2 separate regions of the Homo sapiens genome follow, and region 2 is linked to region 1. The links come from fine-mapping of genetic effects on gene expression. A gene starts in region 1. The other region holds a variant in brackets. All regions are shown on one strand. Distances are from middle to middle.

Region 1 (12,018 bases):
ATCTTCCCCAGGAAGGGGAAGAGAAAACATCAATGACTCTTTCTTAAAAATCCTCTACTTTTAATTTTTAAAAAACACTCTTCATGTGGGAAAGGGGCTCAAACCTTTTGTATTTTTGTCTTGGCGCTCAGTCTAAACAGAAGGTGCAATAGTGGATAATTCTATTTCTTCCTCACAACAACCTTATGAGATAGATACTCTTATGCCTCTTTAAGAGAGGCACAGAGAGGTTAAGAAATGTGCCCATGGTCACACAGCTAGTAGGAAGAACCAAGACAGGCCTAGGCAGCCTGACCACAGAGCCTGTGCCCTTAAACTATATGCTGTACCATCATCTGATCTGAGTTCCTGACACTTGGATTTGCCATCTGCGTACTTTTAAGCCCATCTTTTAAAACTACACTCACTGACATGTTGATTTGTCTTATTGCTTCTGGGAGTTCTGTGTCACCTTGTCAAAGTTTCAGGAATTACTCTAAGCACACCACTGATAGCTCTTGAGAAATGTGGTTGAGATACATTCAAGAGCTTTAGTTTAATTGTCTGGAACTCTTTTTTTTTATTTTTTATTTTTTATTTTTTTTTGAGACCGAATCTCACTCTGTGGCCCAGGCTGGAGTGCAGTGGTGCGATCTCCGCTCACTGCAAGCTCCGCCTCCCAGGTTCACGCCATTCTCCTGCCTCAGCCTCCCGAGTAGCTGGGACTACAGGCACCTGCCACTACACCTGGCTAATTTTTTTGCATTTTTTAAGTAGAGACGGGGTTTCACCGTATTAGTCGGGATGGTCTCGATCTCCTGACCTCGTGATCCGCCCACCTCGGACTCCCAAAGTGCTGGGATTATAGGCGTGGGCCACCGCGCCTGGCCTGTCTGGAACTCTTGATAAGAATCTTGGAAGCAAAGTCTGTGTTCCCACGGTTATTCACAAACACACTCATTAAGTCAGTCAACTCCTCACTCTGGTTTCCTTGGTGCTAACTGTGCACAGGCATGTATGCTCTTAGTTTGTTCTTTGCATGTGCTCAGCGATCATGCATTCAGTCAGTCCTGAATGATCACACACTCGCCCCAGGCCTTGGGGTTGTCTCCCCAGTTGGTACTTGAGCTCTTCAAAGCAGGAATCTATCTTTTACTTCCTTGGTCTCCTGTCCTCATGCTCCCAGGTGGCACATTTCTGGCCCATGCTGGCCTCTCCTGCTGCATCTTCTACCAGGTTCCTTTTTGTTCCTTGACAGAGTCCCCATAGACTTTTTAGTTCCTCATTCTTGCCATCTCTCTTCCCTCCCCACTTTCTTCCTCCGAAGGATCTTTCCACAGATTACCGTTGGCCAGAATTCTCTTACCTTCTCACTTCATCTGGGCTAATTCCTGCTCAATCTTCAGATCCCAACTCAAGGATCACTTCCTCTAGGGGGTCCTCCCTGATTTCTCTAAGGAATTCAATCCCCTTAATATTAACTTTCCTAGCATCCTTTCTCTTTTGCAATATTTGTCATTCTTGCAACTTTAAACACACAATTTTGGGATTCTTGTCTGCCTCCCTCACCAATGGTAAGGTCTATAGAGGCAGAGGCAATGTTTTTCTTCTCTCTTTTTTTTCTTTCCCTTCTCTTTTTTCAGCTCTGGGTTCCAATGCCAGCTCTGCCATGTACTAGCTGTGTGATCTGGGGCAGGCTGCTCCAGCATTCTCTGCTTCAGTTTCCTTATTGTATAATGGGGATAATAACAGAGCCTATCTCAAGGGCTTTTTATGAGAATTAAATAAGATAAACTTTGCAAAGTACTTACAGCAATTCCTGAGGCACTTTTAGGTACTATGCAAGTATTTGTTAAATAAATATCAGGTTAAAAATGCTTGAATAATACATAACAAAGGTGAATTAATACCAACTTCACTGTTAATTTTAGGAGTTCTGGTTCTTCCCTCTTAACCCCCTTTGGGTGATATCTAAGCAGGACCTGCTGATAGCCACATCCTCCACAGCATAGCTGGTGTTACAGGGAGGGCCTGGGGACCTTACTAAGGACCTGTCAGATATCCAGCCCTGTTTTATTTCTAGTGATAGGAATGCTAAAAAGTATGTGTCCAGGGAGGGTGACTCAGGGCATTAGAAGGGATGATCCACTGCTCGAGTTCCCAGACAGAACTTTTCAGACAGAATTTCTGGGAAAAGCAAAACCAGTGGTGGGCACTGAGGATTTCATTTTGCAATATTCTGCCAGACCCAAAGCCTGGTCTGCTCAGGAGGGGGACAGCCCAGTGGATTATGGGAGATTTCTCAGGATCCTGAGACAATTAATGATGCTACTTTTGACATGCCTGAGGGTGGCTAAAACTGAAACACAGAGCAATTATGCAACCCAGCCAGTCACGTAGCATCAGCAAGGCTGAGCTGGGTCAGATTTCTGGACTCCAGACTTACGTTTAATCCGATGAGATTCACAGCCATGCTGTTATCCCAGCATAGACTTTGTTTAGTCACAGAAGCTGTTAACATAATTTCAGAGATGTGTGGCCAGGGACTCCTGGGTCATCTGGTAAAAATGACGTTACCAGGAAATGAAAGTACTCAAAGCTCTAGAGAAAGTGTGTGTCAGGATCAAATAGGAAAAAACAAACAAACAAACAAACAAAAAAACCCACATTAAAACAAGAAGACCAGAACAGGCTTATGTTAGTCTGTTCTCACATCGCTAATAAAGACATACCTGAGACTGGGTAATTCATAAAGGAAAGAGGTTTCACTGACTCACAGTTCTGTATTGCTGGGAAGGCCTCAGGAAACTTACAGTCATGGCGGAAGGCAAAGGAGAAGCAGGTACCTTCTTTACAGGGTGGCAGGATGGAGTGCGTGCAAGCAAAGGAAATGCCAGACGCTTATAAAACCATCAGGTCTCGTGAGACTCAGTCACTATCATGAGAGCAGCATGGGGGAAACAGCCCCCATGATTCAATTACCTCCACCTGGTCCCACCTTTGACACGTGAGGATTACAATTCGAGGTGAGATTTGGGTGGGGACACAGAGCCAAACCATATCAGGCTGTATATGTAGGCAGAGAAACTACTGTACTATGGACAACATAGGTATACGGTAAGAGTATTACTGCTTCACTGATAACTTCTAGAACATGCTGAGGTTGGTGCAGCCTCCAGTACTTAAAATAATATGAATTCAGAAAAAGACAACTTGTAGTTCCACGTGTGTATTTATGTGTGAGTATCTAGTTATGTCAGAATTCACATTTTTTTTAAAAAAAAAGTTTTATGAAGACTCAAAAGAAGTTGGAAAAATGTCCATCTTTCACTTCCTACTCTTTCTCAGTTTCTTTTTGTTTTCCATTCAGTGAGACAAAAGGTAGTGGAAAAAGAATGGGTTTTGGAGTTGCATAGATCTGGGGTCAAGTACTGACTGTACTGCTAGTGATTTGACCTGGAGCAACTTTGCCTCTTTGACTCTTTGACTTTCAGTTTCCTTATCTATGAAATGGTTGTAATAATACCTGACCTCACAGGACTTATGTGTACTTGGTATATGATAGACACTAAGCTAGATTTGAACTGCAGTGTATCTTAGACTCATTTAAAATACAAGTTTAAAATGGATTTATCAAAACAGAATAATATCGATGCAAAGATAGACAGATAGATCAAAGGAACAGAATGAAGAGTTAAGAAATAGACCTGCTTATATAAGGTTAATTGATTTTCAACAAAGTTTCCAAGATAATTTTAAATAGGAAAAGGAGTCTTTTCAACAAATGATGCTGGAGCAATTGGACATCCATAAGCAAAACAAAAACAAACAACCCCTCCCCAAAATCCTTGACCTATATCTTACATTTTAGACTAAAATTAACTTGAAATGTATCATAGACCTAAATGTAAGGCTGAAACCATAAAACTTCTAGAAGCAAAACAGGAGAAAATCCTCATGACTGGGTTAAGCAAATATTTCTTTGATAGGATTCAAACAGCACAACCAAAAACATTTAAAATAAATTGGACTTCATCAGAATTAGATATGTTTGCTCCTGAAAAGACACTGTTCAGGAAATGGAAATGCTAGCCGAAATTGATTTATTTCTTTAACATTGCTGTCTCCTAAAACTGAGGCCCGGGGTAGATATAATTAATAATTCTTGTGCAGTCCCATCCTCTCCCGACAGAGTGCACTTTCTAGATGTACCCTCTCTCCCTCATTCTTTATGCCATTATTCAGTGCCATCATTCTCGCAATCCCTGTCATGAGTGAGGGCTGGGAAGAAGATTGAGCTATGCATTTTGAAGTTGGAATTCCCTTCTCTTAAATTCCATTCCTGGGAGTGACAGACAGGGGAAGGAGCAGTGATAAAAAGTCTGGAGTTAAAAGTCTGGAGATGGGCACACACATGACAGGAGGCAACCTGAAGCCCTTGGGAGCAACAGCGTACTCCTAACAATGACAACTAAACACAGGCACTGAGCATGTGCATTTGGCCAGACATGGTGCTTTCTTTGCATCATTTCATTGAACTATTTTATTCTGTTCTGTTCTATTCTATTCTATTCTATTCTATTCTATTCTATTTATTTAGAGATCTCGCTCTGTCACCCAGGCTGGAGTGTAGTGGCATGTTCAGACCTCATTGCAGCCTTGAACTCCTGGTCTCGAGTGATCCTCCCACCCCAGCCTCCCAAGTAGCTGGGACTACAGGCACTCGCCACCAGGCCTAGTTAATTTTTGTATTTTTTTGTAGAGATGGGGTCTCACTGTGTTGCCCACGCTGGTCTCAAACACCTGGGTTCAAGTGATTCATCCACCTCAGCCTCTTCAAGCATTGGGATTACTGAACTAAGACACTGCAGTTGGCCTCGTTTAACTCTAGTAGAAATATCCATGCAGGAAGTATGTGGGAATCGGGGCAGCAGGGACTCCAAGCAGGCACCCCAGAATTTCTTCTGGGCTGTTCCTTCCCTGACTCCTGCAATTAGTCCTGCTTTTCCTTTGGCTCTGACTTGCTTCGTCCTTTGGAATTCATTCTCGATGTTTCCCCACACTCATCTCTTTTCTTGGTTGTATTCCCTTGGGACTGTTGGCTCAGGTTTGGGGATTTATTATGTTTAAAACTTCAGCCTCTGTTTGGCTTCCTGGCACCAGGCTTTGTACTTCCTGCTCCTTGAATCTGGTAACTCCTATCCCCACCTCCTTTCTGCCTACTCAAAGCTTCCAGTCTTTGGTGTTGGACAATCCCTGGATGATGACCAATCTCGTATGTCCTAAGGTATACAATAAAAAATACCAGGGTCAACAATCAACAGGCATCTCTTTCTTGGGCCCATCTTGTTCTAGTGTCCCAGACATTCCAGTGTAGGCTTAGATATAGATGGAAGTGTTCTAGTGTTTATGATGGACACCTGTTGAAAAGACCAAGTCTACCATGGCTGAGGTAGCTATGGAGGGTTTTACGTATTAACACAATGGTGAGGGTATCTTTACTGGTGTGAGCACAGTTCCACTGTATGGATGATCGTGATGCTGGAGTGGTCGATGGTTGGTACCTCCAGTGCCAGCTGGGGATTTATGGATGAACACAGGTGAGTAGTCAAGTGGGAAAAATGGCAGCATTCAGTTCATCTTCCTATTCTTCCTCCAGGTGTCTTCTTAGAATCAGGATCAGGTGCAAACCCAGGGGGGTTCCTGTAGCAGCAGTGAAAATTCCAGTGCCTAAGCTATATATGTTCAAGCAGGTCAGGTGGATGTCGCATGCGTCAGTTTGACTACAGCAGAACCATGAGAGATGTTTCCTTTAGAGTTGGCCCACAAGACAGTCTGGCTGCAATCCACAGGCCACAGACAACTGGAGGGAGTGGATCTCTCCCAGTTTCCTTCCACTTAGCATGAAAGCCTCAGAATAAGCAGCCCAGGGAGCAGAGAGACTGACATTAAAGCCTGCAATTCCTCTTCCAATTTTGATCACAGCAGCCATTTAAACACAGGGTCTACCGAGGTTTAAAAAACTTGAACTGTGCTTAGTTGCACTCTGAAATAGTCCTGCTCCTCCCCTGACCTACGAGAGACAGCAAAGAGACGTGTCAATAGCCTCCGCATGAGGCTTCAGAGGAGCAGCTGTGTATGGCAGGACGGAACAAAACCTGCCCATAGTATCTTTTACGACAACATGTTTCCACTTAATGCAGACCACTGAAAAGAATGTGGGAGCTTTTAAAAAAAAATTATTATAAACATAGGTTTGTGACCTTGATGTGGAAGGCAGCTAGAATCTCTGCTTTTAGAGGGCTAAGCAACACCAGGCAGCCTTCAATCTTAGAAGGGTTAAGCTGAAAGGGTCTCAAAAGGTCACGTGGTTTATATAATCCTACCTGCAGAAGACCCCCCCCCCCGCCAGGCACAACGATTTTACAGACGAGGAATGTGAGGTGCGGAGAGGTTAAGGAAGGATTTATCTTATTTGCATAAGGAGTGGAAGAACTGAAACCGAAGCCCCAGTTCCTTGACTGTAAATCCCGCACTTGCTTCCAACTGTCTTTCATCCAGATTATGGGATTCAGCTGCCTCTGAAAACCTGTAGCCCAATAATGGTTATTCCCCAGGAGCCGCGCGAAGCATGAGCTAATTTTCAGTGAGCGCGGACTTTGGGGTAACGGTTCCAGCACAGCACATCCCTTTCTCCTCTTTTCACTCATCGTCACCGCTACCTGAAAACCCTGGCCGGGTGCTGGGGCTTGAGGAGCAGTTCCCACTTCCCAGTCTTTTTCACTTTTCACAGCTGCAAAGTTCAGGGAGTTGAACTGCAGTGCTTTCAGTTCACTGCTCACTCTGCCACGATCAATCTCTGTTGTAAATTTTCCTCCCAGAGCACGTGACGATGCACTTCTTGACTATATATCCCAACTGCAGCAGCGGAGTTGTCAGAGCGCAGAGCCGGACAGAGCAGAAGAACCCTCTTGGACTGGACGATTTGGGAATTCAAAACTTGGGACAAACTGTCAGCCTTGGTAAGTCAGCAAGGCTACACTTTGCTTTCAGAAACATTTGAAAGAGGGACATTTTTGCCAATTAATAGATGAATTTTTTTCCTTTATTTTCTTCCTGCTTTTCTTTGTTCTAAGGAAACATTGTTTTGAATTTAAAATAGTTTGGTTTTGGAAACACAATGTAAACTTTGTTTCTGCTCAGTTAAAATACGTTTCCCAGTTTTAAAGATACTATTTACTGTATGCTCCTGTCTTACATTGATTTTTTTTTTAATCAAAGTAATACTGCTCACTACAAACAGGACAAATGTGTACACTAAAAAAAAAAAAAAAAGTCCTTCTTACTTTTCCCAGTGAACCTTCCCGGGCTTCTCTCCCGTGCACTCCAAGCCCTCATAGCTCACTCTTGTCAGCTGTTTGGCGAACCCTCTTATGCTATTTCTTTCATGCACTTTTAAGCTTTTTTGGTATTGCAGTTCCACAAACCTCGTGCTCCCCCACCTCCCTGTGCCCAGGACCTGGGGGAGAGTTCTAACCTGCGGCTTTTTCCCCAGCCCCTGCTGTGGAGGCAGCCTCAATGCTGAAAATGGAGCCTCTGAACAGCACGCACCCCGGCACCGCCGCCTCCAGCAGCCCCCTGGAGTCCCGTGCGGCCGGCGGCGGCAGCGGCAATGGCAACGAGTACTTCTACATTCTGGTTGTCATGTCCTTCTACGGCATTTTCTTGATCGGAATCATGCTGGGCTACATGAAATCCAAGAGGCGGGAGAAGAAGTCCAGCCTCCTGCTGCTGTACAAAGACGAGGAGCGGCTCTGGGGGGAGGCCATGAAGCCGCTGCCTGTGGTGTCGGGCCTGAGGTCGGTGCAGGTGCCCCTGATGCTGAACATGCTGCAGGAGAGCGTGGCGCCCGCGCTGTCCTGCACCCTCTGTTCCATGGAAGGGGACAGCGTGAGCTCCGAGTCCTCCTCCCCGGACGTGCACCTCACCATTCAGGAGGAGGGGGCAGACGATGAGCTGGAGGAGACCTCGGAGACGCCCCTCAACGAGAGCAGCGAAGGGTCCTCGGAGAACATCCATCAGAATTCCTAGCACCCCCGGGACCCCTGCCGGTGGCTCCATCAGCCAGCAACCTTAGAGAGAGGAAAGACAGTTTTCAAGTGTCTGGTTTCACTTTCACAGTGCGGCTGCCACTTTGAAGAGACCCTTGGTAAACCCCTGATTCGGGGTGGGGTGGGGGACTAGGCTCAGCCGGAACCAGCACCTCCAAGGAGTCCGGGAGGTGCCTGTGGTTTGCACCCACCACTGAAAAAGCCGCGGAGATGCGCAGCGCGTACACTGACTTTGGGGCCTGGGTGTTGGGGTTCTGATCAGAATTTGGCGGGATGATATGTTTGCCATTTTCTCACTGGATGCCCTGGGTAGCTCCTGCAGGGTCTGCCTGTTCCCAGGGCTGCCGAATGCTTAGGACACGCTGAGAGACTAGTTGTGATTTGCTATTTTGCCTAGAGCTTTGTCCTTCTAGATCTGATTGGCTGTAAGTATCTCTACTGTGTACCTGTGGCATTCCTTCACAGTGGGTTACAAGCTTCTTTTGGATTAGAGGGGGATTTTTGATGGGAGAAAGCTGGAGATCTGAACCCAGCCCATTTGCACACTATAAGAAAAAAAAGTAACTTTTAAACCTGTTAACATTGGCCGGGGTTATAAGAGATGATCTTCTATTTTGACCTTTTGTCTAACTTATGACCTTGAACTCTGACCTGTGACCATGCAGCATCACATGATGGCATGACGTTCTTTGGATCAGAAGAGCTTCCCCAGAATCTAACCTGCACTCCCGATGGTGGTTCAGGAGACTCTTCCTGATCTTTCTAGAAGGGGTAAAGTGGGGTTGAACAAGGCCAAGCCGTTAGCTCTGCTGCTGCTCAGTTTCCCAGCCTAGTTTTCTGAGCTGGGAGAGGACATAATGTGGTATTTCGTCACGTAGCTGAGACCTAGAAGGGCATACTCAGGCGGAGATTGCACAAAGCTGGGCTCCAAGTTCTGTGCTTCCTGATCCCGAGCCCTGACACTCATTTGCTGTGTGGTCCCGGGCATGTCATCAAGAAGCTCGCTGTCTGCATGAGGCTCCCGACGATCTCCATCCCCAGGGGGTTGGGAGGATGTCTTTAGATTTTAGGACTCTGTGATAAATATTCCACAGCCTGGTGTGAGGAAGCTTGGACCAAATGCTTCCCCTTTGGCCGGTTAGTCTGAACAAGGATCTGCTGATTTAAAGGAGCAGTTGGAGATTCAGAACACATATAACTGGGGAATTCAGGGCAAGCTACCAACCCAGCCCTGCTGTAGTTTTCCCAGGACTGAAGGAAAGAGGCAGACACCACATTCTCCTCTGCAAAGTTCTCTGGAGAATGTGTGATGTTAACACTCCCAGCTAAGGGAAAGCAAAGTCTAAAGGAAAACACACAGGAATGCTTCCAATGTCTCCAAGTATTCCTGTGGTCAACAGTTTCGCAGATCCGTTAGGCCCTTAAAGACAAGGAGGAAGTAAAAGGTCAAATTTAAATCTATTTAAAAAAACTTTTAAAAAAATTATTTATTTATTATTATTTTTTATTTTTAAGACAGAATCTCGCTCTGTTGCCCAGGCTGGAGTGCAGTGGTGCAATCTTGGCTCACTGCAACCTCCACCTCCTGGGTTTCAGCGATTCTCCTGCCTCAGCCTCCTGAGTAGCTGGGATTACAGGCGCCTGCCACCACGCCCAGCTAATTTTTTGATTTTTAGTAGAGATGGGGTTTCGCCATTTTGGCCAGGCTGGTCTCAAACTCCTGGCCTTAAATGATCCTCCCACCTCGGCCTCCCAAAGTGCTGGGATTACAGGCATGAGCCACTGCACCCGGCCACTTTTTTTTTTTTTAAAGAAAAATGCTCTGCATGGATTGGAGACACAGCAATAACTACTGTTGCCATGGAAGGGTTAACAGTGTAGGAGCTGGTTTATCAGTCCGCTTTGACATACAGCTAAAGGAAATTTATGTTTGGGGGAAAAAGGCCCTCTGTTCACTTTAAAATTCAGTGTGGACTTATGCCAAAGGGGGCTGTTTAAGTTGAAAGAAGCCAAGTTAAGTTTGGCCTCTTGCCTGGAATCACTTGAATTCTGAAATTTCACTGCGACGGACATGTGCCTTGTCACATTTTCCATTGCTTAATCCTGAAGTTTGGTGCAAGTCTCTCTGCACCTATTAAAAAGTGATGTATATACTTCCTTCTTATTCTGTTGAGTTGTATAGAATTGTCTTTTGTATTTAACACTTTGTAATTTTCACAATATTTTTTAATTTAAATAAATAAACACATTTTTTCCCTCCTGGGAAGTCATGAATTCTTTGTTTGATTTTTCAATATAATTGTTAGTTTCGAAGACATCACAGATACGTTTCCCAAGACATCTCTGGATTTTGCTCCTCTCCCAAGTCAGTATCTCCTGAGGGCGTATCTTATTTCTGTCTGAACCATGGGGTGAATGAGGCTTGGCTTTTCATCCTTTGAAATGCTTTGTAATGAATGGAAAACAAGCTGCAGATGGTCTTACATGGACTTCTCTGTTTAAATATGGCAGCCCTGGAGTCTTTGGACTTTGAACATGCAGTGACAGGTCAACTGCTGCTAAGATGTTGCTCCAAGCTTGGTTGCAAGAAAACGTTTGACCTGTATGTTGGCTTGGCAAATATTATCCACACATGTGGCCCAGCAGCACCTGCTAATGGGCAAAGAGCTGCTGTATGAACAGCAACACAAACTTACCAACACAGTGAAGCACGACGTGTGGGGCTGGGGTTGACTCTCCTCCCTCTCCTGGTCTCCTTCAGACTGGGACTGATTCCAGCCCCTCCCACTTGGTCTGTCTGTATCTCTTGCCCACAGGCTGAGGCCGTGGCCAGCCTGCGGCAGCCTCTTCTTCATAATTTTATTTGCATGACCTGTTTTTGAATCAAGCAAATGGTAGGAAGCATCCTTACTTTTATGTTTCTCTGTTTCCTGTGAGATTGGCTTTTCTGTTTCAAGTAAGTGTTTCCCTTCAGTTCACTAGTAACTGTCTACCTAAAAAATTTACCTGGCAACAGTACAGTGGAGCCTGGATCCTTCCCAAACAATATCGAGGGCCCTGATCCATCAGTTGGTACTTTGATGATGTAAGATGAGAAGATTGCTGTAAAAGGCAAGAGAGCCTTTCCATTTGTCCCAGTTTAATGTCGTTCTTCGTAAGGAAATGGTTAAGAATTTTTCTATTTTTTTAAGCCATGGGTGGAAGGAGAGGGAATTCTAAACTCTAATTGTCCTAAAAATATGCAGAGTACACTTTGTCGTTTTAATGGGATATTTGTTTTCTTTAAAAAAAAAAAAGAATTTCTAAGCAGAACCTAAGGCCCAAGGGGTTTAGTCTGTGTGGATTTACTCATGCATGTGAAAAACTGAGAGGATAATTTGGCCCTGTGCACCTAAGATATTAAAAACATATTTTGAAAGCACTTAAATGTTAGGGATGAGGTAAATGGATCATCCTGCCTGCTCCACACTGTTCTAATTACACCTTTGTACGTCAGAGTCAGGCAGGGATGTTACACAGTAGAAGATTTCTTTCACTGGTAGAATCATGGGATCAAATCTACTGGGAAAGGCTGAAGTCAGGCCAAGGAATGAATGCTCTTGGCTCATGATTCTGGTTGGAAAGTGGACCCCCTGGTGCCTTTCAGAGCTGCAACTGGAGGGTTTCATGGTCAGACATGCACTTCTAGGATTCAGCTAAACGAGGGTAATTTATCATCCTGTAAAATGCTGCTCTGACCGTAGACATTGTGGAACAAACAGAACATTGAGCTTAAAATGTAACTTAAACTCCAGCTTCAGGCAGAGCATACTTTTGCCTCATGCCCTTTCCTTAAAGTCTGTGTACTGTGCTGAAGAAAATCACAGGACATATCATCGGTCATGGGACTAGAGGCAGAGTCTAGCGCTGGAGGGAGACCTGTCAGCCA
Region 2 (12,018 bases), 66 kb after region 1:
TTAGACTAACTTATTATCACTACAACATTATGAGATAGGGGCCATAATTTTCCTCAATATGCAGATGAGGAAAATGAGGCACAGAGAAAAATTAGGATTATAAAAGAACAATTTCAGAATATCACACAGCAACTAAAAGAGTGGGAAGATTGAGGGCCTGCCTGAGAAATCCAGGGAAGGCATTTCCTATCAGAGCATTACTTGGTCGACCTGTCAGGATCAGAGTTGGGCTGGAGCTACCTGGAATTAAATTGGAACACTCTTTCCTATCCCTACCTTAAAGACAATGCTTGATAATCAAGATATTGTATGAGCATGAAGAGGAGAAGGAAGTAGAGAAAAAAGAGTCAATGCTATAGACCCTCATAGTTAATATCTACTGACACAAAGATGGATAATCAGGAAGCGGGAAGGGTGGTGACATGATTTGCCTCCATGTCTGTCTTAATGGGCAACTGTAGTCAAAATGCTTATCCCCAGTGTATTAGTCTGTTCAGGCTGCCATAACAAAATGCTGCAGACTGGGTGGTTTACACAACTGAAATTTATTTTCTCACCATTTTGGAGGCTGAAAGTCCAAGACCAAGGTGCCAGCAGGGTCCGTTTCTGGCAAGGCCTCTCTCCTCGGCTTCAGATGATGCCTTCTCTCTGTGTTCTCCCATGGTCTTTTCCCTGTGCACACAAAGAGAGAGCTCTCTGGTGTCTCTTCTTCTTGTAAGGCTATCAGTCCTGTTGGATTAGGGCACAACCTTTATGACCCCTTCAACCTTTATTATCTCCTTATAGGCCCTTTCCACAAATACAGTCACATTGGGGGTTAGGGCTTCAACCTATAAATTTTTTAGGAGGGGGATACAATTCAGTCCATGACACCCAGTTTTCAGATAAGAAAATGAAACATTAGCGAAGTCAGCAATACCTACCTCATAGAATTAAAAGAGATTTTGTATTTTGTCTGGCAGATCATGGGTGCTCAGTCAATATCACCTCCCTTCCTTATGTTTTAATGATCAGCTAAGGCGGGCGTTGATTTATTGCATGTTCAGCATAAGGAGGGGTCATGGAAGGTTAGGGAATGGATGGGGAGGAGATGAATGCTTCACTAGTTTTATCTTGCTGCATAACAAATTACCACAAATTCAGTGGCCTAAGACACCATTCATTTATAATTTGCATTTACCATGAGTTAGGAGTCCAGACATGGCTTACTTGGATTCTGTGCTCAGGAACTCATGAGGCTGAAATGAAGTTGCTGCCTGGGTTGCATTCCTTCCTGGAGCCAGAGTTTTCCTCTGAGCTTTTGAGATTGTTGACCGAGTTCAGTTCCTTGGGGTTGTAGGACTCAGGTCCCCATTTTCCTGCTGGTTGACAGTGGCTGGGGACACTGTCAGCTCCTAGGGGCCACTCCCATTCCTTGCTATGTGGACCTCTGATAGATTCCCTTGCAACATGACAGCTTAGTTCATTAAAGCCAGCAAGAGAATCTTACTCCAGTGTGCTGAAACAGTGTTTCAAGTAATGTCACATAATCATGGGGGTAACATCTCATCACCATTGCCATATTTTATTGGCTAGAAGTAAGTCACAAGTTCTGCCCACATTCACAGGGAGGGATTATACAAGGCTGTGACTCATTGAAGATTACCATAAGGTTTGTCAGCCTTTGGCAGAAAGGATAAAAGGGGTTGGTGCTGATGGCAACTGCCATCTGCTTTGTATGACATCTGTCATACATGCTGTGGGTGACCAAACTTGAAGATGGATTAGCAGCTGAAGAATGGCATCAAGAATGTAGTTGTTGAGTTTTCAGATGGCCTGAAATAATAGGGTGCTGAGAGTCTGAAAGATAGTAATCGAATTCCAGACAGTAGTCTGAAAGATAGGAAAGGAAGAAATTAGAACCTCTAAAAGAGTGTAAAACTCAGTTAGGGCAAATCACTACCACTTACTTGAAGACACAAACTAAACTGTCCTCAAAATCAAAATGAATAGATAAACTATTTTTAAAAAGACTCTATTGTCTTAATTCTACTAAGCTCAATGAGAGTGTAGCATGTGGGTCAGTTATGTAGTAGAAGTAGTGATATTAGATAGAGGTACAAACGGTCTATTTCTCATTCCAGGAAAAGTATTGACTTCTACAGGTGAAGAATACTGAGCTTCTCTCTTTCTGCCCATAGAGTTTGTTCTATACTTTTGAGAGAGTGCAACATTTAGCGAGGTGTAATGGAACTTCAGGAGTTTCAGAAAGGAATACATGATTTGATCATGAGGAAGAAGGACTGGTTGTGATGATGGCCCTTCTCTGAAGGTAGAGCCTGTGGTGGACCTGGGACTTGAACCTGGGGAGTCTGGCTTCAGGCTCTGTTTGAACTCTCTACTTGTTACTGATAGGAGAGTCACCTTGGTTCCAGAGCTGCTTCATTTCATAGTTTTAGTCCTTTTCTGAGGTTCAGGTGTATCCTTGTCCTTATATAGAATGTAATATCCCCTTATAATAAATTCCTTGTGAAGTTTTATTAAACATTTATTAAAGCTGGTTTCTGTTTCTTGCGTACAGAAATAATTTAACTAAGACAGTTGTTGACTCATAAAAGAAAAAGCAGTGAAGGCTTCATGATTGTTATTTCAGACACGAAAAGTCAACACGACTCTCCAGCTGTATAGAATTCAACAGGAAATGGGTTTAAGTTTCAGGAAAGAGCATTTTATTAGACCATTGGAGTCCATAATAAGTCTCTAGCCTAATAAGCAAGAGAAAATTATAGATTAAGTTCTTAGGATCTTCAAAAACCAGAAAAATTACAAACAAGTGTAAAGTAGGAGACTGGAGCTGAAGATTCTTTGAGGTCTTTTACACATACATTTCTAAAAATGAAAGACTGCATAATTCCAACATACTGGAGAGTAGGGAGTGGAGGGGTGAGCTTGTAGAAGTTCTTTGGGGACTGGCCGGGCGCAGTGGCTCACGCCTGTAATCCCAGCACTTTGGGAGGCCGAGGCAGGCGGATCAAGAGGTCAGGAGATCAAGACCATCCTGGCCAACATGGTGAAACCCCGTCTCTACTAAAAATACAAAAATTAGCTGGGTGTGGTGGCATGCCCCTGTAATCCCAGCTACTTGGGAGGCTGAGGCAGGAGAATCGCTTGAACCTGGGAGGCGGAGATGATTGCAGTGAGCCGAGATTGCGCCACTGCACTCCAATCTGGCGACAGAGGGAGACTCCACCTTAAAAAAAAAAAAAAAAAAAAGAAGAAGAAGTTCTCTGGGGACTTGGTTGGAGCCGGACCTGTCCGATATGGTTTCCAATCCAAACTTCACCTTTAAGGAAGTCTTCTCATGTAGGGAAACTGAGGTAGAAGGAATCATGCCTGCTGTGGTTTAAGTTTCTTGAGGTCAGGCACTTCCTCTTTTCCCAGCACTGTAGGAAGCAGTCATTTAATTTTGAGAATGATGACAACTGCATAATTAGTAGGAGGATATTAAGATAATAAATTGTGTTTAACTTGAATATTTTAAAGAGTTTATTAGTGTTTTACATTTTGGATTGGGGGTCAGATGCTTCATAATAATCTTAAATCACTAAATGAAGGATTCATGACTCAGATATTCTTTGGAAATCTTTGATATCACATGGCAGCCTTCAGCAGCCTTACCAGAACATTGTATTCTTGACTGGCTAATGCATTTTAGAAGGAACTTCATTTCTTTTGAGGTACTACAAAGAGTCACTGGAATGTTATCAGGTCCTCATGATATGAATTATGTAAAAAGTAGCCGCATTGATCTTGTTCTATAATGAAAAACTTAATGTCTAAAACCTCTGAGGGAGATTACCAAAAATTCTTCACATTTAAGATAGCCATTGGGATGCAAAATGTAGTCACCAATGTTTGCTGTGCTCCAAGACACTGCTAGATTCTTCACACTTATTACCAGTGTTTAGAAAACCTGTAGGAACAAGAATAGGGCAGCTCAGATGCCAAAGATCATCAAGCATTGCAAGAGAGGTAGCCAGAGAGATTTCATTCGCATAAATTAAAAAAAAAGTCTCAGTAAGCCGCAACTGTGGTTCTCTTTGTTTTGGTTCATGCGAGCATCTTGAAGACCAAAACTTTCTGGAAGCATAGACCTTCCCCACATTTTGTGACAGAGTGATGACACATACTTGTCATTTGAGAGGCACCATGCTATAGTGAAAGAAGCCAGATTTGGAGTCACCGGCTATACACTCTGTAATTTACATCTTCTGTTACCTGACCTCCCTGAGCCTTCGTTTTCTCATCAATAAACTGAGGATCAAAAGGATCCTCCCAAAGTTGTTATGAGGCTCAGTGGACCTCCAGAAGGGATGGCACTGATTAGCACTGACTAAGATTCAGTGATTGAGAATCACCAAATGACAGTGATATCACTGATTGAGAATCAGCACAAGCCATAGTCACCACTATCCATGGTGGTCTGAGGGTGGGCTCTCCTATCTGGCCACCTGTGGTCAGATCCTGAGCTAGCCTCTCAGTGGTTGCACAACCTTTGGCAAGTTAGGCATTCTGAGCCTCAGTTGTCTAAATCAGTAAAATGCCAATCATACAGTAATGACAGCTGTTTAACGGGGTTGTTAAAGGAGTGCGTGAATAGTGGAAAGTGCTTGCAATAGTGGAAATATTATAGTAGAACAGTGGAAAGTTCATATTAGGCCTAATAAACATTAACTTCTGCTACCACTGGGTAGTATTCCAGATTATACAGCTAAAATGCTTCAAATCAGAGATTCCAATTTTGGGGCTTTTCTTATCTCTAATATCCTAAGCCCAACCACCTCTTTTCATTTCTTAAACCGAAAGCTGTGGAAATAGTCATTTTTCCTCATAGGCATTATATAAAATATCACAGATCCTGTAGGTAAACAGTTATGTATAGTTTTTCTTGGCTCACTGCTTAAAATGGAAAAACAGAGGAATCTGTTGCCTTTCCTCTTGTTAATTTCGTGTGCGTATGGAGCCCATAGCTTGAGAATAATTGTCTTGAGGACAAGGGCAAAATCTTTTATCTTTATTTTATGCACAACTTCTGCATGATCTCAGTGGTTAGTTGAATAATTGTTGGTAGACTTATTTTGGATTGAGTCAATTTTCTATTCCCAGTGCTATAATGAGGTATAATGAGGTGTATGAGGGAAATAGGTAGTATTTTCATCCATTTGGACTCACTTCTGTTAACCCCACTTATTTAATTACTCAGAAATATTCATTAATTTAACAAATATTGAGGCTGCTATGCACCAGGTGCTTTGATGAGTACTAGGGAGAGTAGCAAGTCAGACATAGACCCTGCCGTCATGGGGCTTGAATTCTAACTTCCTATTATATACACAATGAGGTTCATATGATATTAAGAATCATTTAAATCTACAATTGTAAGGCACACTTAAATTTTGAGTATGTTTTGAGTTTATCATACATCTTCCCCTTTGTACCTTGTTCACCTTTTTAGGTCTCCAAATCACTTCCCTAAAATATTCCAGCCAATTTTCTTTAGTGCATTTCTGACATTCAAATAAAATTGTGGCTTTTAATTAAAAGGCAAGGTATTCCATTGAAACTTTTTCTATTAAATTTTAGTGGAACACTACAATAGTAGGTAAACACCAGACAAATGAATCCTATTTAAACATGGATAATATTCATCTACTTCTTTCTTAGAGCTTCCTGTAAAAATCAGGAAGACTCTTCAAACTTTACTTTCACAGGCCTGTACACTGCTGGAGGAAGGAGGTCCAAAGGGAAAAATAATTTGCAGAAGGAAAAACACCATGGAGATGGAAAAAAAAAAAAAAAAAACAAGTATTAAAACACTTGAAACAAAGGAATGGGTCACAGCTTGAAGAAGAGCTCTGGTTGAAGACCGGAAAACACCAGGGGTTAGCATAGCGGAAAACACATATAAACATATTTTAGTTTTGAGAAATGGCTCATAGGAAATTTAATGTCT[G/A]TAAAAAGTCCCCTTTTATTTCACATAGGAAGGAGGGTTAAATAGCACATTTAAAAGCACATTTAAAAGCACTGGGAAATCCCGTCCCCAAGGGTCTCAGTTCACTTGAACTCAGCTACCAGTTGCAGAGAACCTGCTTTGTACCAGGCACTGTGCTCCAGATGGAGACACAGGAAGAAGGAGGAGATCCAGTTCCCAGTCTGGAGAGGCTTCCGGTCCATTATGGAAGAAGATGTCTAAGCAGGAAATTCCTCCACACTGTGATCTGATTTGTGATGCAGGGAGGACTTCGTTACCATGGGTGTGCTTTGAAGGAGGTGTGGAGCCTGGGGTGCAGGGAGGGGGTACATAGTGGAATTTCTGGAGCAGGTGATGTATCTCCAAAGGGTGGGTAGTGGTCTTACATCAATTAACATAGTACTTTCATTTTGAAAGACTTTTAAGAAACTGAATGCGGACATCCATGAGATGATGCATACGACTGAAACTTTCCAAGTTGAATATTAAAGGTAGTAATCACATCCTGCGTCTAATTCCCTTCTTGCCAAAGAGCAGAGGCAAAACCATTGAACAACTGCATACAGTAATTCACCTGCAAATATGTTGATACAGGTTCTGCCAACTGTATTCTCTGAATAGTGCATTCTCCCCAGATGACTTTCTGTTAATTGGCAACTATGGGAGTGTCCTCCTTAGAGGGTTTTGTTGCCAGAACTCTTTCCTGTTGCCAAATAGCCAAAACTATCCTTGTGAGGGGAACTACGCATCAAATTTCTTTATTTGGTGGCTTTTCTCAGGTTCAAAGAATTCCCACAAGGTTATTTCAGGATGGCTTGAAAATAGATGGTAATTTAATTAACCCTTTCTCGGATGGTATTAATCACTCCAGTCTTGTCAAGAAGCAGATGCTTGTATCATTCACAAAATGTGTTGCTGATAAGATGGATTGGTGGCTTTTCATTCTCAGGAAATCAAACAAGTCACATTTATGTCAAAGATGGCGTGCACCGGTGACCTTCCCTTGGTTGGGGCAGTTTCCCTTCAGGAAAATGCTTAAGTGGTATACAACAGTTCTGAGAAAAGAAAGTAAGCATCTCTTGATTCTCTGAAAGTGTATCTGTTCTGAGAAATACTTAAAGATGATTAAATTTCTTGATAAATCTCTTTCACAACATTTAACCAACTTAAGAATTTGGGGATTTTCTTGATAGTATTCTTATTATAGAAAATTTTCTATTCATGCTTCTCTATCCTTTTACTTTTGCCAAAAAAAAAAAAAGATCAAAATAAAGGAAAATACAAGAAAAAGAAGCTTCCCACATTGCAATAGATAGAGCATATTGGGCCACTTTTCACTCTGCCATTGAGGTTCGTGTTCACTTTGGATATACCTACGTTGGAGCAAAAATATGGCTTGGAAGGGCTTCAGCCCTGTTGGAATTTCTACCCATCCTACTCCAAATAAATATGCAATCTAAATAAAAACTGGGCACTTGCTATGCACACACAGCTTCAAAAGGGGCATCCCTCACTAACAGAATGCCCTCCTGCTGTGTGCCAGCCAACCCTTTAGATATTCTAGGGCACATTTGGGAGAAGCAGCTGTGGCCCATGTCTTTGGAGTATAGGGCAGGTGCAGTGACATGAACAACAGATAACTGTTCTCAGCCTGGAGTGGTGCTTAAATTTCATACTTTGCCAGGGTTCCCTTGAAAAGTTAATGAGATAGAGTTGTTTAAATCCTATTAAGCTGTCATGGATGTGTTTCTGGGTTCTTTTTCTCAGTTTTACTCATCACGAGGGACTTGGTGCAGGACCCAATTTTAGACATGTGAATCCAATTCATAATCCTGTTGTTCTCACTCAGCTCATGGTGGGTATGTGGAAACAAGCTCTTACTTCCCACACCTTTAAAATGGCAATGTTGAGCAGTTTGTTGGTATGGCCTGCACCTCCTTAGAGGAAATCTATCCACATCTTTTAGATGCCTTCCAATGGCTATTAGTAGGTAGAGTTACAGGTTAAAATCATTGCCATTTCTGTACATATGGCTGAACTTTCTTCCTATATACTCAAACATAACTTGGAATTACATCTTGATTGTGTGTAACAGGAAAGCTTTGGTTCCTACTGGGGTTATTGGAGATAAATTAATCTCTGCAGGAATAGTAGGAAGGGTACTGGAGCTTTGGGTAATGAGAAGAAGGGTTGAATCAGCTGAGAAAAAAAGCCACTGGGCTGGATTCTGGCTGGAAAGTGAATTGGACCCTTGGGGGTTTAGCAGAATCTATCCAGTTCTAGCCATGGGGGCCTCTGAAGCTGCACTGTGTGCCTGGCACTAGCAGACAGAGAGACGCCTTCAACTCCTGGCCTCAGACACTAGGACGAGGGTGGAAGCTTGGTGCTCTTCTCTTTTTCCCTTTGACTCTTACCCTTTGCCTTCACTTGGTGTCAAATTCAGGTCACTGTATGACCCTCCAGTGCCCTCTGATCCTGCTTCTCTCTCTTTGTTTCCCCAAATCTCCCCACCCCTCAGCCTCTGGTAACCACCATTTTACTCTTTGCTTCTGTGAGTTTGACATTTTCAGGTTCCATATATCAGTGAGATTATGCAGTAGTTGTCTTTCTGTGCCTGGCTTATTTAATTTCACACAATGTCCTTCAGGTTCATCCATGTTTTTGCAAATGCAGGATTCTTGTTTTTCTTTTTAAGGCTGAATAGTATTCCACTCTGAATATATATGACAATTTTCTTAATCTATTTATTTGTTGATGGGCCCTTAGTTTGATTTCATGTCTTGGCTATTGTGAAGAATGCTTCAGTGAACATGGGAGTGCAGATATCTCTTCAACATACTGATTTCCTTTCCTTTGGCTGTATAGCCAGAATTGGCTATTATATGTAATATAATGTAATAGCTGGATTACATGTTGGTTCCATTTTTTTTCGAGGAGCTTCTATACTATTTTTCATAATGGCTGTGCTAATTTACATTCCCATCAACACTGTGTAGGCTCCTGTTTCTCTACATCCTCTCCAAAGCTTGTTGTCTCTGTTTGCAGATGACATAATCTTATATGTAGAAAACCCTAAAGACTTTACAAAAATAATCTTAGAACTAATACATTCAGTAAAGTTGCAAGATTAAAAAATCAATGCAACAAGAACCAAGCTGCACCCCTAGAGTGTTGCATAGATGCCTGTGGCAATGAGATGCAGGGCCATCAGAGGGCTGTTAGGATCCAGGGCTTGCTCTACCTGGCACTTGGAAGTAAGACTGGTCCTCAGTTACTCCCAAAGTTGGACCAAATGAGTCCCTAGTCACTTGAATACTTAGATGGAGAGCATGTCTTAAGAAGGAACTATTAGATTTTCTGCTTATAGACCATGTCTTAAGTGATTAACCAAAGCTGCATGACTGTATTTGTCCCTTGTTTTTAGACTAGGTCAAACTTTTTAATTACCTTGACTGTACATTAAAATCACTTGGGGAAGATTTATAAAGTCTGGGTCCACTCCCAGAGATTCTGATTTTGTTGGTCAAGGCAGTGTGCCCTGGGCATATGGGTTTCTTGTTTTAAAAACTCCCTGCGTAATTTTAATGTGCTGGCAAGGCTGAGAACCATGGGACATAACATAGAGGCTGCATTAAATGTTTTAATACATGTAAAGTACTCAGAAGATTACTTGGCACATAGAAGATACACAACAAATGCTACTGTTTTTGTTGTTATTATTGGCACATGGCTGAACACCAGATCAAACATGGAATACATAAACAGAATATCTCAACACTCACACACTAATCATATCCTGACCAAAGACCAGGATTAGATCTCTAACTGCTGGGAACAGTTATCCACTTAAGAATTGTGTTTCTCTTTCTATTTGGGTAATTAGCACTGGAAAGGTGGGCCTTTGATGTTTGCCTTCCAAAAAGAGGTTTATTGGCACTGGCTTCTGAAATGAGAAAGTCAGACTTATGAAATTGAAATGCTTCTGTATTTGTTAACACCCCCAGGTCTTGGAAGAAGACTTCAGATGAATAATGGAGCCCTCAAGAATAGACAAAAATGGAAGGACGTTTGCCAATTATACTTCCTTGATGAGGATATTAGTGCAGGTTAATTTGCAATAAGTACATACCTATTATGTGTAGGTCTTCATGGGAGACCCAATGGATGACATACAAACTAAAAAACCTAAGCTTCTCTATTGAGTTTATAATATTGATCCATAACATATATAAAATGTGAGAGTCAAGTTTATTTCATATGCTTAAATAAAAATCATTGGACAGTTTAAGAGTTGTGTAAAGTTGATTCACTTCCTGTAACAGATTTTTATCCACTCTTTTCTTGTTGGTCATGCACTACTGCATCAAATATGTCATACAAAACATTTTAATGGACTTCTCATCCTCCTTCCTCTTCTTTTTTTTAGAGAAAAAAGAAACTTTCACATGGGAGTAGAAGAATACTTTTTCATCTGATTTTTACTATTTTAAGCTTTAAATGTTTAATACTGTCTTCAAAAGTTGTGGGTCGGGTGCAGTGGTTTGCGCCTGTAATTCCAGCACTTTGGGAGGCCAAGGCGAGTGGATAACTTGAGGTCAGGAGTTCGAGACCAGTCTGGCTGACACGATGAAATCCCGTCTCTACTAAAACTACAAAAATTAGCCAAGTGTGGTGGTGGGCACCGGTAATCCAAGCTACTCTGGAGGCTGAGGCAGGAGAATTGTTTGAACCTGGAAGGCGGAGGTTGCAATGAGCCGAGATTGTGCCATTGCACTCCTGCCTCGGTGACAGAACAAGACTGTGTCTCAAAAAAAAAAAAAAAAAGTTGAAATTGCTCAAGTAAACAAATCATTTCAGAATAAGCTGAAAGATGAACTATCTTTGTATTACCTTAGCAGATTCCTATTTTCATCTTACTCAGTACTGTAGTAAGATTTTTCTATTGTCTTCTATTGGGGTTAAGGTGAGGCAGTTTAGCCTGTGGCTAAAGAGTATTGTATACTTAAGAGGTATCATTTAAGATTTTTCTTACAAATTACTAAACTTTGGTTGAACTGTCACAGGAAGGACAGGCTGGAAATATTACACAGTAGCTCAATCGCTCACAATGGAAAAGAACACAAAGTCTCAATGCAGGAGACTGCAATAGCTTTTTGGCTCCAGCTCAGAGCGTAGCCTGGCCAGCCTCTCTGGTGCCTTTTTTTAAATATAAAAATGGAGACCGTCAGTGTTGACAAGGTTCCTTTGGCTTATTTGTGTTGACATGGCTGCCAGTGATGATTTGTTCTCATGAGAGCTGTGAAAGGTGACACTTCCAGGGTTACTTTGCAAACAGCACTTTCCAACTTAATTATGCCAACAGGTCTTTCCTGTAAATTAGCATTGCCAAGACAAAACCTTGGCAGAGTTGAGTTTCAATAGTCATTCAGTAAGTCATTCACTCGTTTGTTTACTTAATTCATTCAGAGGAGTATTTATTGAATGCATACCTCTCTCAGTGCAGAGAGGTAATTGGCCAGGCACTTTGTTAGGCACGGAGATCTGACAGAGAATCTGGGCAGTCCTCACTCTGCTGCTTCTTATTTGGGTGGCCCTGGGACAGTCACTTGGCCATTCTTAGCCTTGGTTTTCTAATCCCCTCTAGCTGGCCATGTGACTTTTAGTCCCCCTGCTTACTATCCATTCCCATCGTGTTGAACTTGGAAGCCATCATGTAATTTGTATTGACCACTGAAATATGGGCACAGGGGACACACAGCACTTCCACATGGAAGCTTTAAGAGCCACTCTTGGGCCACACCTCTCTCTCTCTCTTCCCTCTTTGGTGAGCCCAACAATGTTCCTAGTATGGGTTGCTCCTTCCATTTAGGTCCAGGAATGGTAGGGCAGACCAGGGCTGACACTTGATGGCCAAGGAGCATTGAAAAGAAGAAATACTCTTGAGATTTTTGAGTCTTTTGTTACTGTTGCAGAATCTCACCTCTGCTGACCGATACAGTTCATTCTTG

The links. PIP is the estimated chance that this variant, and not a neighbour inherited with it, causes the effect.
Region 2: its variant is the best candidate, but not a certain one, in a credible set for the expression of KCNE4 in lung (TOPMed, PIP 0.52).

The regions. Positions count from the first base shown.
Region 1 is chr2:223,045,274-223,057,291 of GRCh38, forward strand. KCNE4 (potassium voltage-gated channel subfamily E regulatory subunit 4) reads left to right here and starts at 6,917. Exons shown (of 2, transcript NM_080671.4): 1 at 6,917-7,001; 2 at 7,535-10,364. The coding sequence starts at 7,558. The coding sequence ends at 8,070. RefSeq lists enhancers at 3,513-3,572, 7,225-7,772.
Region 2 is chr2:223,111,724-223,123,741 of GRCh38, forward strand. It overlaps LOC124907986 (a long non-coding RNA gene), which reads left to right. Exons shown (of 2, transcript XR_007088096.1): 2 at 10,015-10,298. LOC105373905 (a long non-coding RNA gene) reads right to left here and starts at 647. Exons shown (of 3, transcript XR_923950.4): 1 at 558-647. The variant G/A (reference allele first, on the strand shown) is at 5,993.